3 linked regions of the Homo sapiens genome follow. The protein of the gene in region 1 purifies or fractionates together with the protein of each later gene. This does not show direct contact. Each region holds a gene or a part of one and is shown in the gene's direction. Other genes may lie near its edges.

Evidence for each region.
Region 2: the proteins of UBFD1 (region 1) and SH2D4A fractionate together in Homo sapiens (co-fractionation; one large-scale study listed by BioGRID). This does not show direct contact.
Region 3: the proteins of UBFD1 (region 1) and EIF4E fractionate together in Homo sapiens (co-fractionation; one large-scale study listed by BioGRID). This does not show direct contact.

Annotation. Positions count from the first base shown.
Region 1 is NC_000016.10:23,571,193-23,574,847, forward strand, and holds the end of UBFD1 (ubiquitin domain-containing protein UBFD1), read left to right. Parts: 3' UTR 1-3,197; downstream 3,198-3,655. UniProt on the Homo sapiens protein: May play a role as NF-kappa-B regulator.
Region 2 is NC_000008.11:19,358,618-19,362,272, forward strand, and holds part of SH2D4A (SH2 domain-containing protein 4A), read left to right. Parts: intron 1-2,585; coding exon 2,586-2,697; intron 2,698-3,655. UniProt on the Homo sapiens protein: Inhibits estrogen-induced cell proliferation by competing with PLCG for binding to ESR1, blocking the effect of estrogen on PLCG and repressing estrogen-induced proliferation. May play a role in T-cell development and function.
Region 3 is NC_000004.12:98,881,455-98,884,288, reverse strand, and holds part of EIF4E (eukaryotic translation initiation factor 4E), read left to right. Parts: intron 1-2,834. UniProt on the Homo sapiens protein: Acts in the cytoplasm to initiate and regulate protein synthesis and is required in the nucleus for export of a subset of mRNAs from the nucleus to the cytoplasm which promotes processes such as RNA capping, processing and splicing.

The DNA of each region.
Region 1 (3,655 bases):
CTTCTTTTGGTACCTCATCAACGCTTCCTTTCCTGGGCTCCCTCCCGCCGTGCTGCTGCTGCCTGTGAACGCACGGTGGGAGAGGAAGAGCTGCTCAGTCTTGGGCAAGGAGCTCTCACACTTGCTGTGGTGTTCGTTGAGCAGCAGAGTATCTCCCAGTGACTCCTGTTTAAATGTCTTGCCCTTTGGGCCCCCATCTCCAAGGAGTTCCATTGCTGGTTGGATGATTGTCTGCACCCCTCACTGAGCTTGGCCTAGAGGCCCAGCCTGGCATGGTTGTGCCTGGGCTGTGCCGCTCAACAGCCCCAGCTCCCAAGCAGACAAAGACCTCTTCCAGGAGGAGCCAGGTAGAAGATAGTTATACAGCCATATAGCTGCAGATCCAGATAACCTTCTTTCTTTGGAAGTTTTCAAGAAATTCTTAAGCAGTCCAAGGATGATTTCAATTATGCTTCTCCATTGGGTCCTTCTGCTCATGCATTCAGTTCAAGTGTCCTTTATCCCAGGTTCAGAGATGCTGCCTTTCTGAAGAAGACATCTGACCCTAGCAGGTTGGCCAGTGTTATTGAACAACAAAAATGGGATAAATTGCTTTCATGATTAGCTCACCTTCTTCTGGTTTTAGCCCTTCTGTTCTCTGTACACGTGAACTTCTGTCATCTCCTTCTGGCTTGGTTGCCTCTGAAAGGAGGGAAAGTCTCTTGGTAAATTATCTCTTTTGTGCTGTTTGCTGTTTCTCTGCTGCCGTCTTTGCAGTTCTCCTCTCACTGGTTGCAGGCTTTCATAGTAAGGTTTGGCGAGAAATGTTCCAAACATCACATTTTGGATTCTAGGCTGTCACCCCTCATTCTGTGAAACGTATTAGCATGTGTTCGCCCAAGATGACTATTCCTTGTGAGCCAGTTAATGATGATATTCTACGCCCTTCCCTTCTAAGCTGTAGTTCAGGAATCCAGCCCACATAGACAGACTCTTGCTTTCCATGGTGTAGTCAATGCCAAGTGATGCATCTAGGCAGGAAAATCTACTCTTTGCTTTTTTGGGGGCAATTAGTACATTTGTGAAGTGCAGCATCCAAGAAACAGCCTGTTTTTTCATCCCTTGAGAAAGGAGCAGTCATTGCAGCTTTTCTGTCCTTGTCGGCCTGCAGTTCCTGGGGAAAAGAGTACATCTGAGCTACTTGTCCAAGCCTCTGTCTGCAGGTGACAGGTTTTGGGGGAAATGAGATGCATTAAGTAGAACATCATCTCGGGTCAGACATTGCCCCTTTTGTTTGCCAATGCCCCAGTCCTAGAGACTTGTCCTGACAGTGCCGCACACCTACTTTTGATCTCTCAGAGCAGGTGGCTCCATCCCCAGACTAGCCTGGCTGCTCTCCGAGGCCCCTCCACCTGCTCCCCTTATTGCCCCATTCTTGTGGCTTGCCGGGCCACTTGGCCTCCCTTCTTGCCGGTGACAGCGTTCCATCATCTCCCCGCTCCCCAAGGGCCAACTGCTTCTCACTCAGGCTGGTGTCATTTCAGGAGGACCAAAGCCTGCGTGAGCCTTTTTATTTTCAGTAAAATGGTGCTTTTTTCCTTACTTCGAGATACTATATATAAATAATAATGTAAATGACACCTTTTCGTACGGAGCTGTTTGAGTATTGCTTTACAGAGCTCACTAAATCAGCTTCAACAATCTTGAGCTCTGTGGCTCCTCACCCTGTCTGCATGGAAGACCTTGCTGGACGCTCTCGGGAGAGCAGACATAGCACCAGAAGCCACTGGGAGAAGTGTTTTCGATCCGTGTCTGGGCCACAGTAGTATTCACTGTTTAGTCTTTGAGTTCCGTAAGCAGTCTCTTCATACATTTCTTACAGTCTGGAGTGTACTGACTAAATCTGTGTAAGCAAATTGAAATACTCTTTCTTTTAGGTAGCGTCACAGTGGTTTTTTTTTTCCTCAGGATAATTTCTATACAATTTCCTTACTGTCAGAGGGACCAGATCTTTCCCTCACTGTGGCAGGGGCCGTGCAGGTGGATAAAGGAAGAGCTGGTTTCCGGAGAGTGACTGTAACAGCGTTGACTCGAAGCTAGAGATGGAGGGGGTGGCCGTCTCTTAGACATTGGACACCTCTCAGAGCCTCCTGAGGGCTTCTTTGTCTTCTAGAATCTCTACCGGTGGTCCTCCTGCAGGTTCTGGCTCACAGACATCATCATGCCTTTTTTTCCCTCCCTGAGGCGCCTTGGCAGAAGAGCGTGACCCTGTGAGCCAGGCCCCCCTTAGCTCTGCTTCAGATCACAGAACACAGACAGACTCGCGAGTTGCTGGACCTCTTTGGTATTAAGTGTTTGAATCCATGGTGGGCCTTTTGCAAGTAGCGTTAGCTCTTTTTAAATGTTGAACTGAGCTAAGGATGCACTTTCTTGTGGACATAGAAGGGGCCCACGTAAGGCCCTGAGTAGGCTCCTTAGTTGCTGCTTTACCTGATGAGGGCCAAAGAGATTAACTCTGCCTCGTTGCCATGTCTCAGAAAAGTTGCCATATTTCACCCAGAAGGGGCTTGTTTTCCTCTTACTCTTACTTTAACCATGTGCCTGGAGGAGCCATTCTGGGCTCTTGCACTTGCCCAGCCTTTCTTTGCCAGGGGCAGAGAAGGGAAAGGGGGTAGATTGAGTGTGCCAAGGGCCGTGCAAGGGCAGGCTTGCTTTCCACCCATCTGCTGAGGGAGCCCTCTCCTCTCGCTCCTTGCCTCTGTTCACACCTGTTGTCTTGGAAGAGGATGGTCCCTTTGTCTTAAGGCTTTGTGATAAAGTCATCTCCAGTTAGGATCTGCACCTGTTTCCTTCGTAATAGTGCCTGGCGGCCTTTCTGAAGTTACAGGTGGTTGGGAGCCCTCTCGCATGCAGAACATCTGGTAGATTGATCTGCCAGGCTGGGTGGTTCTACTGCTTTCTCAATTTCTAAGAACCTTTTTTTTTTCTTAAAGAGTTCTGCTGAATTATTTGACAATATTTGTAAGTACCATGTTTCCTTGTGGTGTATGCTCTGTTCTGGTTTCTGTTTTCAAATCAAATGCCTGTTTGGGAGGAGATGAACGTATTTAGTCTATTAGATTTGCACTGCTGGATTTTTTTTTTAAAGTGTAACCTTGAATAGCTGTCTTATTGTTTATCCTGTAAGATTAGTCAATCGATTAAAGTTTGATAATTAATTGCGTCTCTTTTTCCTTCCAATTCTTCATGCGCCTAATCCATACTGGGGATTAACCAACATTTGGAATTGGACCTGGAGCCATTTCTTTGCCAGTTGTGGTCTTATTTGGCTTTAAGTATATTCAAATGTATTCTCTGCTGAAACAGTTGACATTTACTCTGCAAAATGGTGAAAGTGACCGGTGTGACAGTGAGCCACACTCCTGTTGGAGCAGCATGGTCTGCTCCTTGGTGGGCCCTGGCTTCCACATGTTGGAAGAGAAGCTGCCTCCCTGTACTCACACCTCCTGACTAGTGCCTTGGGCAACCCCACCTAGCCATTTAGCCTTTGAGGACATGTTTTAGAAAACACTGAGATTGGAGCTACAGATTTAGCCACAAGCTATAAAGACCCAGGAGTCGGGAGGAAGAAAATCTGTTACCAAAAAATGGGCCAGGCTCACTGGCTCACACCGGT
Region 2 (3,655 bases), on another chromosome or scaffold:
GGTGGGGAAAGGGCTGATCATTTGAGAGAATGAATGAGCCAGCTTGCTAAGCTTCTCTGTAGAACAAAGGTGATAAAACAGAGGCATCCTCCTTTGGGGACACTTGTGAGGCTCTGATGAAGGAATTGGTGGGGAGGCATTCTAAGTGCTTCCATCAACAGGCTGGACAAGAGGCTTTCTGAACGGGCCCAGCGGCTTTCTATATGGGCCCAGCGTGCCCTTGTTTTCTGGTACTGTTAGCTGAACACATTTTCACAGCTCACACCACACATCTGGGTCTCCACACCTTCCACCCTGGGCATCTGGATTAGCATCCAGCCTCGGCCCCTCCGCCCCTCCACTCCAAGCCATCACCTGGATTTCCCCATGCCTGGCTGACAGTCCTGAGTCCTGGTCCAACATGCTTCCAGCAAAACACTGCTGAAAAGGAAATGATGGTCTTCTGAATAGAGAAAGTAAACCATTACAGATTTTGATAAAAGTAAAATTCTCTCAGAGACGCAGGACAAGTTCCTTACGTTTTCTAGCTTTCTTGAATAAATACGGTGGTCAGGGCCGTATATAGATGGGTAATAGCAGATCTCATCTGCTATTACTCTGTGAAACTCGTTAATTTTTCTTCTTTTCCACTGTGCATGTACATAATTACATGCAGATTAAAGGAGTAGATTTATTAAATATAGCTCTGTTAGACATTTGAGTAACATCAACCAAGTACTACATCTGTTATTATTAATATTTTTTCTTAGGTAGAATCATGTCATGTTCCAAATTTCTTGCTTATCCTCAGCAACAATATCCATGATGATCATAGCTTGATGTTTTCACTATATGTTTCCTAACCGTTTAAAAATAAACACGTATGCATGTGGAAGGATGAACAAAGCTCCACTTTGAAGCTTTTTCTGTTTAAGCTTAGAAATTGCTAGCAGCACATGTATCTATCTTGGGCTGGCAAACAGCTTCAATCAAAGGATGGCAAATTTTAACAGTCCTTTCAAACATCAAAGCTGTCCTTTGGATTTTCAAATGTTGGCAAACAAAAGGAGCTTAGCTCTAGGCAGGAAAACAGTGTAAGGAAAAAAAAATGAAAACAGTAAATGCACAGAAGTTTAGTTACATCTGCAGTGAAGCACAATTTATGAATGATGATTACTTGAACTGTGATTTATGACTGCCCAGAGCGATCAGAAACAAGTTTCACAATATTAATGTTTATACTTTACGTTGTGGTGACATAATAGCAAGGAAGTCTTTACATTTCTGTGGGAAAGCACAAAATTAAAAAGCTTGTCACTTGTGATAGAGAGGTGGGCACAGGCAGCCCTTTCTGGCCATTTCAGTTTGTTTTATTGCTTAGCTAACCAAGGCTTTTATTAGTCCACCAAACTGTAAATTCAGTCGTCTTGTGAGCACTCAGAAGGTTGTGTCCAAATAAGCAAAGTACTTTTCAGGTCTAAGTGATTTGGTTTGTTCATTTCTCTTTCGTTTAAAATGATTTCCGTTGAATGCTCTTAATGCCAGAAAACAGTACACTAAAAAATGGTTAAGGTGGTAAATTTTGTTATGTGGAATTTTACCCTAAGTTTTAAAAACCTAATTCTCCTTTTAAAGGAATATTTACATTTTGAAAGTATTTCTCCCTTCTCAAAAGATGCTTTTGAAAAATATTTTTCTGTTTTTTTTTTTTTTTGAAACAAAAAAATACATATTCTGGCAGGGTGTGGTGGCTCATGCCTGTAATCACAGCACTTTGGGAGGCTGAGGCAGTGGATCACTTGAGGTCAGAAGTTCGAGACCAGCCTGGCCAACATGGTGAAACTCCATCTCTTCAAAAAATACAAAAATTACCCAAGTGTGATGGCACTTGCCTGTAATCCCAGCTACTCAGGAGGCTGAGGCAGGAGAATCGCTTGAACCTGGGAGGCAGAGGTTACAGTGAGCCGAGATTATACCACTGTACTCCAGCCTGGGCGAAGGAGTGAGGCTCCATCTTAAAAAAATAATAATGATATATATTTCTTTTGAAACACTTAAAATCATGTAGTAAGTACCACATTTTGGGACACATGACTCGGGGGAGAGATTCAGCTGAGATTGCTCTGGGAATGTGCATTTCTTCTGTGGAGTCTGTCAGCTACTGTAAAGTAGGTTGATGCTAGTTCTATGTAATAGTGTGTTTACATCCTTCAGGGAGTCAGTTTGAAGCAGCTAAGTACTGTGTCTGAGGAAAAGGAATATTTTTTCTTACTATATGTTATACACTGTGCCAGGGACTTCTTAAGTTATCTAATCCTCAATATAACCCTAAGAAATATTTTTTTCTCATCTTTCTTATGGGGAAACAGCCCAAGAGAGGTTCATTTGTTGCTCCTGGAGTTACACACTAGCTAGCAATGGTCAGTCTTACTTCAGGTCTTACTGACTCCAAAGTCCACACTTGATCCTTCCTAGTGGGCCAGAGAGTTAGATAGAAGTCAGCTGTGCCGGGTACCCCGTCCTTCAGGAAACTGCTGGATTTGCTCACCAAGGTTCTTTTTTTGTTTTGTTTTGTTTTTGTTTTTTTTTGTTTTGTTTTTAAACAGAAGAAAGAATCTATGAAGAAAAAACAAGATGAAGAAATAAATCAAATAGAAGAAGAGAGAACGAAGCAGATTTGTAAGAGCTGGAAAGAAGACTCGGAATGGCAGGCATCTCGTGAGTACCCAGAGGTCTCCATAGCACCTTCCAGGCTCTCAGCTGATTCTCTCCCTTAATAATGTGATCAATCTAGAAAGCGCTTAATGTGGGTTGTTGAGAGATATGTTCACAGTAAGTTACCACTCAAATGTTATTACTAACTTATTACTCAAATGCTTACAGGCTACTTTTGAACAGCAGACTCGTTCTCCATTTATTTCTGTATCACCAAAATTATGATGTAATTTATCAAATAGCATGATATATAGCTATGGAAAATAGGTTTTGGAGAGTGTTTAATGATCTTAGACTGTTTATATCTCATTAGCTTGGGGAAGAAAAAACACCATGAAATAGAATGAAAAGCTTCGCTATTTAGAAATGTCTAAGTATCTGAAGGAAAAGAACTGGAAGGTTATAATAACATGTAAACATTAGTTTTCTTGGAAAGGTGAGATTCAAGATTATTTATTTGAATGTTTTTCTTGTAATTTAATATTGTGTTTTGGATTTTTTTTCCCCTAAATTTTTGATAGTGAATACATTTTAACTTTGTAATCAGAAGCACACAGGAATACCAGGCTGGATGTGTTAGCATCCCGCTCCTGCCTGTGACCCAGCCTTGACTCCTATTTGAGTGAGCAGAATGGGTGAGAAAACTCATAGGAGAAGAATAAGCCCATGCAACTGAAGGCAGAGGAGAGGATGCTCCAGAATGCTAGAAGAATTAGGTTTGTGAAAGAATTAGTGTTTCCATCTGACTCAGAGAAATCTGAACTGCTAGATCAACCTGAGGTGGCTTGAGGAAGACAGCAGGTATGGCTATATTTGCAGGATGTTGAGATCCTACATTGATCTGCAGTCCCATTACAACCAATGCCATTTAAATGACAACTACTGTGAAATGAAAATATTTGCAAGATCCAGTAGGCTCTTTGTACTATGCACTGAAATCCTAGCATAAGGGAATATTTTG
Region 3 (2,834 bases), on another chromosome or scaffold:
GAAAGTGCTGTTTGGAAAAAAGTACTACTTTGAAAAGAGCTAATGTATGCTCATAATAATAATTCAGTGATTATTGGCAAATAGTATATGTGCATTTAAAGCATGTGTGTTTACTACGTATAATTTTCATTAAAATTTATATAACATATCTTGGTTTTTGTTCCATGTTTAAAACCCACATATGTAGGGTTTTATTAAACCTTTTTTTGTAAATTTTATTCTTTGCAAAAGTGGCTTTTTTTTTTTTTTTGAGACAGGGTCTCACTGTGTTATTCAGGCAAGAGTGCAGTGGTGCAGTCATGGCTCACTTCAGCCTCAACCTCCTGGGCTCAGGTGATACTCCTACCTCAGCCACCCAATTAGCTGCAACTACAGGTGTGTATGACCACACCTGGCTATTTTCTTGTATTTTTTGTAGAGAAGAGGTTTTGCCATGTTGCCCAGACTGGTCATGAACTCCTGGACTTGATCAAGCCACCTCAGCCTTTCAAAGTGCTGAGATTACAGGCGTGAGCCACCATGCTAAACCAGCTGACATTTTTTTTCTAAGATTTCTTTTTACCTCAATTATATTAGTAATATTTGACACCAGGCGCAGTGGCTCACACCTGTAATCGCAGCACTTTGGGAGGCTGAGGCAGGTGGATCACAAGGTCAGGAGATTGAGACCATCCTGGCCAACACGGTGAAACCCCGTCTCTACTAAAAATACAAAAAAAACAATTAGCTGGGCGTGGTGGCGGGCGCCTGTAGTTCCAGCTACTTGGGAGACTGAGGCAGGAGAATGGCATGAACCCGGGAGGCGGAGCTTGCAGTGAGCCAAGATTGGGCCACTGCGCTCCAGCCTGGGAGACAGAGCGAGACTGTCTCACAAAAAAAAAAAAAAAAAAAAAAATTTGACTTACAATTTTATGTTAAAATTAAGTGCTGGTCAGTCAGTGGTCAAAATGTTTGGTTTGCCCCTTTGTGATTTTTCAAATATTATTAATTTTTCTTTTTAAAATTAATTAATTTTTTGAGACAGAGTCACACTCTGTTGCCCAGGCTGGGGTGCAGTAGCGCGATGTCAGCTCACTGCAACCTCCACCTCTTGGGTTCAAGTGATTCTCTTGCCTCAGCCTCCTGAATAGCTGGGACCACAGGCCTGAACCACTGCAGTAGTTTTTGTAGAGACAGGGTTTCGCCATGTTGGCCAGGCTGGTGTCAAACTCCTAGCCTCAAGTCATCCACCTGCCTCAGCCTCCCAAAGTGCTGGGATTTCAGGCGTGATCCATTGCTCTCAGCCATGTAAATTTTTATGTGAACATAATTTATTTCTGGATCAAAAGGTATAGGGATTTTCTACATTTCATGCTATATGGGGTTCCATAAGAGAAAAGAGTTGATTTGTCATCATATTTTAATGTTTCTTCCAGCATCAAAACCTAATTTTGGAGGATTTACTTTTTTTTTTTTTAAATGAGTTAAATTAAGAATTTTTTTCCTACGGAAGTTTTGTATTTTTGTCAATATTAAATGTTTTTGAGTGTATATTAAGACTTCAGATTTTCAAACGAAGATTTTCTTTTTTAACCTTCCAATTTGCATGACTCAATGGTCTTGCTTTTTGACATTTTTAATAATTAAGTATAATTGAAAGGAATGCATTGCATTATAATGCAAATTTGATAATTAACACTTTAGTTACCATAAAATTACTTTTTAATACCTTATTTTAGGGGGAAGGTAGTAAATCTTCTGGAAGGTATAAAAAAAACCTATCCTAGTATCATGTTGGAGGATTTAACTCCATTAATATCTTTATTCCTTTATTTTTATTTGATTTTTGCTTATTTTTGAATTTTTACTATTTTTTTCCTAAAGATTCTTTTTTCTTTTTTTTTTTTTTTTTTGAGACGGAGTCTTGCTCTGTCACCCAGGCTGGAGTGCAGTGGCACAGTCTCACTCAAGCTCACTGCAAGCTCTGCCTCCCAGGTTCACGCCATTCTCCTGCCTCAGCCTCCCGAGTTGCTGGGACTACAGGCACCTGCCACCACACCCGGCTAATTTTTTGTATTTTTAGTAGAGGCGGGGTTTCACCATGTTAGCCAGGATGGTCTCGATCTCCTGACCTCGTGATCCGCCCGCCTCGGCCTCCCAAAGTGCTGGGATTACAGGCGTGAGCCACCGCGCCCAGCCAAAGATTCAAATTTTTAAGATGACCTATGAAGCTCTCTGTGATCTTCCTCTGAAACCTTGTCAGCTTTATCTCATGTTCACTTTACTTACAAGCCATAGCCACACAGCCTAATTTTTATTTCTCAGCTTTCAAATGTGCTCATTCTCTTAACATTATCCTTTTGACCTCGTGATATTTAAAGGGGAAGACTTCTCTAATGTTGTAGATGAGATTAGAATCTCCTTGTTATACAGTATCACAGCCCTTATGTTTACTCTTTGGCACTCATGACAAGTGCCATTTTATTCTTGCAATAGAGTCATGTCTTACTTGAAAATTAGGTTGTAAAGTTAGTATGTAAAGCAGAAATTACATTCTCCCTCGAAGTGTTTCATTCACTCCCTCGAAGTGTTTAATCTCCCTCAAAGTGTTTAGTTTTTGTTTGTGCAGTCTTATAACAGGTATGGTTAATATAATTTGTGTAGTAATATACAATATTTGCTAGGGTTCAGACGTGAAATGTAACATTTTAGATCAAAGAATGAAACATGTTTGTTTTACAGATTTCTGTTTTTAAGTATGCATGTGATACAGGTCTGTCATGTATTTGTGATTATTTGATTATGTTTTCTCTACTAGACTATAAATGCAGTCAGCTCAGGGACTGTCCTTACTT